Homo sapiens: one gene and its partner. The protein of the gene in region 1 purifies or fractionates together with the protein of each later gene. This does not show direct contact. Each region holds a gene or a part of one and is shown on either strand. Other genes may lie near its edges.

Region 1 (3,820 bases):
AGTAATTGAATGTGGTTGGATTCTGAGCATCTTTCACAACAAGAGCCAATGGATGTTGCATATGAAATGGATATTTACCTGGGATCCTGGCCTAAGACAGCAGATAAAAATGGTCTGTCCTAAAGTAGTGAATTTCCTAAGGTTCCACAGCCAGTGCATGAAAGAGCTCAGGAAGGCAGAGAACAGAAGTCTTGTGTACTTTTTCATCTGTTCTCCTTCTACAGTGTCTAGACTTTTCCCAAAATAACCCCTATAACATCCTCTTCCAAACATCTTATGTAGCTGAATCTGCATGGATTCCATTGCCACAATTTCATCTGTATACAGTACGTTGGAAGAGCTTCTCAGAACATAATGTCCTGGGTGAGGTGACTTTACCACTAAGTCATGTTTCTGTGGACTCTGCTTAGGAATTGACTGTCTCCACAGTTTCATCTGAGTGACGTCCTGACAGGACACAGTTCCCCCTCCTCTGTTTTACTAAATATCTCTTGGCCTCCCCTAATAGAACAGAGTCAATAAAACAAGTTGCTACTGGGTTTAATGTACAATTGCAGGACATAAAAGTCCAAGTGATTAAACTACATGTGGCTTATTTTTCTGCTTTTCAGCACTTTCAGACCATGCTGAAGTCTAAATTGAATGTCTTAACACTGAAAAAGGAACCTCTCCCAGCGGTCATCTTCCATGAGCCGGAGGCCATTGAGCTGTGCACGACCACACCGCTGATGAAGACAAGGACTCACAGTGGCTGCAAGGTATGGGGCACGTGGCCAGCAGGGGTTCTCTTGGTGAGATAGCCTCAAAGATGTGTGGGCTTGAGACCTATGTTTCACAATGGTAATCATTTTTAAGAATGAAAATATAAAATGACCAACAAAATAAATTCACAGAGTGATGGTAGACTGAATTCATATCCTGTTTTATTTTTCTAAATGACCTAACACTATCACTTTTGGACACGCATTAAAGACCTAGGGTTTTTTTGTTTTTGTTTTTTTTTGAGACGGAGTCTCGCTCTGTCGCCCAGGCTGGAGTGCAGTGGTGTGATCTCGGCTCACTGCAAGCTCCGCCTCCTGGGTTCACATCATTCTCCTGCCTCAGCCTCCTGAGTAGCTGGGACTACAGGCTACAGGCACCCGCCACCATGCCCGGCTAATTTTTTGTCTTTTTAGGAGAGACGGGGTTTCACCATGTTAGCTAGGATGGTCTCGATCTCCTGACCTCATGATCTGCCCACCTCAGCCTCCCAAAGTGCTGGGATTACAGATGTGAGCCACCAAGCCCGGCCTAAAGACCTAGGTTTTAGTATATATGAATAAAATTGTATTCTCTCTGTGATTTCTGTAGCTCTGTGGAACTTTGGAGTTCACAAGAAAAGTTTTGTTCTTAATGATAATTCTTCCCTTTGTTCTTTCAATCTGAATAAAACATATCTTGAAGAATGAAAAAAACATAAAAAATCAAGTTTTCTAACAGTTATACTCTCCAAATCCTTTAGGGATAATTTTGCAGTTTTTGCTTTGCTTCAGCTCTCAAAATTTATACTAATATTCATGCCTCAGAATCCAGAAAAAGCATTTTCATTTATGCAAACTTTAATGCCAACGTGGAAACAAAACTAGAAATGAAATGTATAATTTTGGTAAGCTTTGGATTTTTTCTCACACGATACTCTCTTTTGCTTGAGTTGATGAATATAGTAATCAATTTAGAGATCACAAAGAAAATATGTTTTATGGATGTTTTATCATCAGAAATTTGTTTTGAGTAGTGGAAATAAAATCAGAGACAAGGAAAGTGCTTTTGTATATGGATTTCTTTCATAGCTTTGTAGATATACTCCTTTCCTTGATGCTTTCCTTATTGCTTTCGAGATATACTCCTTTTCCTTATTGCTTAGTGTGAAGGAATCAGTTCTCGCATAGCTGTGGTCAGGTTGGCGTCTACAGCGATCTTGGGTGATGGTGGTATGCACAAAACCTCATCCACATTCATTCATTCCACACATACTCATTGGGTGCTCACTGTCTGACCGGCATAGTGTCACAGTGTGGGCAAAACCCACCAGCATCTTTGTGGGATTTAACTGCTCACTGAGGGGCATGGGAGGAGAAAATCTAGGTAAACAAGCATGGTTAGTGAGAAATCCAATTTGTGAAGAACCTGCAGGAGAATCTTTCAGGCGAAAGAATAGGGCGTACTAATTCTATGAGGTGGGTGGTCTTGGTGTGTTTGGGAACAACAGGGAATGGGCCAGTGTACCTGAGAACTTGAGAAAGTTGTGATGAGTGGTGGCGCTGGGGGTGGGGGGAAAAGAGTCTTGTGGTCATGGCGAGAAGTTTAGGTTTCATTCTAATTATGATGGGGGAATCATCAGTGGAATAAGGCAAGTGAGCTATGTGACTCATTTTAAAGTGATTTTAAATGGTAATTCTGATAAGGAGAACTTCCAACTTCCCAAGAGCTATTGTCAGTGGCTCTGCCTTAACAGGAGAGAGTGAATCAACAGAACTGGCGTTAGGTACATTACATTTAATGCTTTTGGTGAATTGATGATACAAGGGAATTATAAATTTGAAAGTGATATGAGATCAAATTCGTTATACATTCTTCAGGAGATTTATTAATGCTATTTTGATTTCTGTTCCTATGAGGAAAGATGGTGCCTCAAAGCAAGATGAAATCAGTAGGGACAAGTATATGGAGGAGAATTAAGTGTGATAAAGCCTATAAAGTATGTTTAAAACGGGAAGGGCAAAAACTACACAGTTTTAAAATAAAAATACCTAGCAATCTAACAATCTAATGTAGATATTAAATAAATGTGTGTGTGTTTGTAAGAGAGAGAAAAATATTTGCTAGAATAAAAACCATCATTTTTCTGAAAAGGATTATAGGGTTCATGTCTCATGGACTAATTTTTTCTGTGTGCTGCCTTAGGTTGTACTCATTTATTTTACTTTTAAAAGGACGTTGAAAAAAAAATAGTAGGAAATCAGAAGAGTGTGCCAAAGAGGGCAAGGGTTCCGCTGGCCTCGGTATGTGTGGCTAGCTAGACAAAGGAAATCGACAATGATTTCATTTGGACACCAGGAAGAACTTCTGCATTCAAGGAGAAAAACACATTCCACCGGGCTATATAAAGTTTATGGACTCTCCATCCCTAGAAACCTTGAAGAGGCGATTCCAGGCATAGATAATCATGACCCTGGAGTCAGGAATCTGGGCCAACACCTCTTGAGGGCTTTTCCAGCGTTATTATTCTATCTGAAGGAAGAAAACCTGCAACGTGTAATTCTCCAAATTGTATACTATTGACAGAATACACTTAAGTTTTGACTGGAAACGTACTGGTGTTTTATTCTTTAATTCTCAAAGACAGTGTCACTTTTGTGTTCTGAGTTTTGTTAAAAAAATCTATTTGAACCTTGAAATGTTGGTTTAAAATCCTTTTAGATCTTCCCCAATTTTTTCTGATCATCTTCAAGAACAAAGTCCAGTGTTTCCTCTCTGATTCTTGCTAGTAACTTAGCTCACAAGATGCCAGCTGCAGAAGGAACGCTCTCTCGGGCTCACGCCTCCCAGGAATAATGAACACAATGTAGCCCGGGCCCAGCTGCAGGGCCAGCTCACGGGACCCTCCGCCTTCACACAGTAGTCACTCTTTTTTCCTAATAGCTCTTATAACTTTGGGTTTGGGGAGGGAAAGAGGCAGGAGGAAGCAAAGGAAAGGGGGAGTTGAAAATGGGTTATGGCGAGCACCACTGAGACCCTAGCTCATCTCAGATTTCCCATTTTCTGCTGATCTGTATTCTCC
Region 2 (3,820 bases), on another chromosome or scaffold:
CAATGTCACATCACGAATGCAGGGCTTTCCAGAGTCTCAGTCCTGAGGCTGCTGAAATGTACCTATGCATCACAGGGTTATCACAAGTGAGGAGGAGGGAAATTCTAATCGTTTTACAGGTAGCACTGATAACACATGTGGGGGGTCCACGTGTGTGAATAATTCCACAGGCAGCCATGAGCCAAGGCTTGGGGGTCTCAGAGACTGCAGGTGCAGGCCGATAATCCCTTCTCCTGGGAGGAGGGAAGAGAAGTTGACGTTCCACTCAAGGTTGTAACTAGGCAACTAGGCCGGGCACGGTGGCTCATGCCTGTAATCCCAGCACTTTGACAGGCCAAGGCGGATGGATCACCTGAGGTCAGGAGTTCGAGACCAGCCTGGCCAACATAGTGGAACCCCCGTCTCTACTAAAAATACAAAAATTAGCCGGGCATGGTGGCAGATGCTTATAATCCCAGCTACTCAGGAGGCTGAGGCAGGAAAATCACTTGAACCAGGGAGGCAGAGGTTGCAGTGAGCTGAAATCATGCCACTGCACTCCAGCCTGGGCAACAAAGTAAAACTCCATCTCAAAAAAAAAAAAAAAAAGTTGTAACTAGTTATGTTCAAGGAACCCAACTCACCTTCTCCGTTTAAGCCCAATACCTGAGTTGGCCCAGTTATTCCTGAATCCAACCTCACACTCAAACTAATGAAACAGCATAGGTCCAAAGCATGGGGTTGCCAACAGCCAAATCCAACCAGCCATTTTTTAAAATAAAAAATATAGGCCGGGTGTGATGGCTCATGCCTGTAATCCCAGCACTTTGGGAGGCCGAAACAGGCAGATCACAAGGTCAGGAGTTCGAGACCAGCCTGATCAACATGGTGAAACCCTGTCTCTACGAAAAATACAAAAATTAGCTGGGCGTGGTGGCGCCTGCCTGTAATCCCAGCTACTCAGGAGGCTGAAACAGGAGAATCACTTGAACCTGGGAGGCGGAGGTTACAGTGAGCCGAGATCGCGCCATTGCACTCCAGCCTGGGCGACACAGAGAGACTCCATAACAAAAAAAAAAAAAAAAAAAAAAAATATATATATATATATATATAGAGAGAGAGAGAGAGAGAGAGAGAGAGAGAGAGAAAATGTAGTCAAATAGACATAACATAGTATTTATTATTTTAGCCATTCACAGGTGTACAATTCCCTGACATTACCCACATTCACAATGTGGTACAACCATCACCACTATCTACACCCAAAACTTTTCCATCATCCTCAACAAAAATTCTGCACCCATTAACCAATAACTCCTTCCCTCATCCCCATCCTCAGTAACCTCTTTTCTACATTCTAGGCAAATTCATATAAGCATAAGCATATAAAATTTGCCCTTCTGTGTCTGGCTTATTTCATTAAGCATGTTTTCAGGGTCTATTCACACTGTAACATATATCAAAACTTCCTTTTCATGGCTGAATAATATTCTGCTGCACGAATGTACTGCGTTTTGTTCATCTGTTCGTGGGTGCAGGCCATTTCCACCTTTTGGCTCTCGTGGATAATGCTGCACATCTGCACACATTGGGGGACAAACGCCTGGAGTCGTGGCTTTCAATTCTTTTCGATACATACCTAGGAGCAGAATTGCTTGGTCACAGTCTATGTGTCACATTTTGAGAAACTGCCAAATGGTTGCCCACAGCGTGCCACCACCTTGTTTGTATAAATAAACTTTTACTGGAAGAAAGTCTCACTCATTCATTTAAACACTGGCTGTGGCTGCTTTTGCACTTCAAAGGGGAGAGGAGTCCTTGCAACAGAGGCCCTGCGGCCTGCAAAGCCTAAAATGTTGCCTCTCTAGGCCTTCGTGGAGAAAGCTGACCAACCTCTGGTCTAAGGTCACTTCCCTGGTGCAGCCTGTGTTTTCACAGACTAGAATCCCAGTGCAATGGTCTGTATTGGCATCATGGGTCAAAAGTCTCAGAATGCGTTCAGAGTAAGAGGCTGAATCCCACGGACGCACGCTGGCCATGCAGGATCGAGATCAGCAGCCCCAAACACAGACATGGTAGAAAGCACCCAGGAAGCTGGCTGGAATGCTGGTTCCCAGGCCTCACTCCTTGAGAATGCATTCCAGGTTGGGGCTGGAAAATCTGTTTTTTTGTTTGTTTTTCTTTTTTGAAACAGAGTCTCGCTCTGTTGCCCAGGCTGGAGTGCAGTGGCATGATCCTAGCTCACTGCAACCTCTACCTCCCAGGTTCAAGTGAGTCTCATGCCTCAGCCTCCAGGGTAGCTGGGATTACAGGTGTGCCACACTCAGCTAATTTTTTGTATTTTTAGTAAAGATGGGATTTTGCTGTTTGCCAGGGTGGTCTTGAACTCCTAGGCTCAAGTGATTTGCCTGCCTCAGCTCCCAAAGTGCTAGGATTACAGGCATGAGTCACCGTGCCCAGCCAATCTGCTTTCTAATAATATAATAAGCTCCCTAAAGGAAATGTTCAGAACCACACTAGGAGAGATCCGACCTCCTATAGCAGGAAACCCAGCAGCTCCATGTCCACACACAGGCCACGCAAGGCAGCTGGCTGGGGTGGCCTCCAGACAATTCCCCCAGAATCCAGCGTCCAGCCCAAGTCCCTGCCTATAACCCAGTGTCCGCTGCCACAGCAGGGGGCTCTTCTGGAGCTCGGACACAGGCCTGCTCCTCCCAGTGACAAACCCGGGAGCAGGTGCTGGGAAATCACTCAGTGGCTCCCATTTCCTCGCCTGCTGGTGAATCCAAAACAGTGCCAACAGAACGCATCCATTTCTTAATGATCTGACCGCCCCTGCGAGAGTTCAGCCCCTCCTAGGCTTCCCTTACCATAGTGAAAACACTTTCCCTGCAGGAAAGGCCAGCAGGAACCCCTGGATCCTACTGTTTAGCTCTTGCTGTGGAAATTCCCATACATCGGACAGGTACCAAAGGCTCGGAGATCTCAGCCTGTCTGCCCCCCAACAATGCAAGCCCTGCAGCTAGGGCTCTGCGTCTCAGGACATAGCCCACTGGTTCTCAATTAGAGGCAACTTCACCCCCCAAGAAACACTGGGCAATGTCTGGAGAGATTCTGGCTGTCACAACTAAAGGATGCTACTGAACATCCTACAATGCATAAGACAGCCCCAAGGCTAAGAATTACTCAGCCCCAAATGCCAACGGTGCCAAGTTGAATAACCCCGATGTAAATCAAGTGAGTGCATTTTCAGCCAATAAACTACTACTGTCCAGAATCACCACTTCAGTATTCCCAGCACTCACCTGACCTATATTTTAAGCAGTTCTGTGTATTGGCAAGTGCTCGCTTGAATCCACCATATGTCAGAACTAAGGACAAGAGGTCCCTTTCCCGCCTTCATGGTGTTTACGTGTACCCTCTAAGGAAGAAGATGGCGAACTACCCCCAAAAGAGAAGTGTGGTTGAAAAATCTAAGCCTCTTGAAAGGAAGGTCCAGGGAGCTATGGAGAATCAAGAGAGATCCAAAGTCAGAAGTCAGCATAGGAAAGGGCCCCTGAGAGAATCGGGAAGGCTGAGACCTGCGCAGAGTCCAGGGGCACCCGGGAGGCCAGCAGAGCGGAGCAGTCGCTGTGGATCCCCTTGGGCTTGGCAAAGCAGAGAGGGGAAGCCAGCAGAGCACACACACTCTGTTGGAAGAATCTGCAGGATGGGTCCATTGACTGCATGTGGAGGGGAGAAGCTTGCAGGACCTCTCTGGAGCTGCACCAGGGGTCACTAGGCAGCTCTCTACGGTGGACGCGGGAGCACCCCAGGAGGAGCAGCTGGGGGGTGTGGGGGG

What was found.
Region 2: the proteins of PID1 (region 1) and RIPK4 purify together in Homo sapiens (affinity purification with mass spectrometry, with the first as the bait; one large-scale study listed by BioGRID). This does not show direct contact.

What each region holds. Positions count from the first base shown.
Region 1 is NC_000002.12:229,152,756-229,156,575, reverse strand, and holds part of PID1 (PTB-containing, cubilin and LRP1-interacting protein), read left to right. Parts: intron 1-611; coding exon 612-758; intron 759-3,820. UniProt on the Homo sapiens protein: Increases proliferation of preadipocytes without affecting adipocytic differentiation.
Region 2 is NC_000021.9:41,756,951-41,760,770, forward strand, and holds part of RIPK4 (receptor-interacting serine/threonine-protein kinase 4), read right to left. Parts: intron 1-3,820.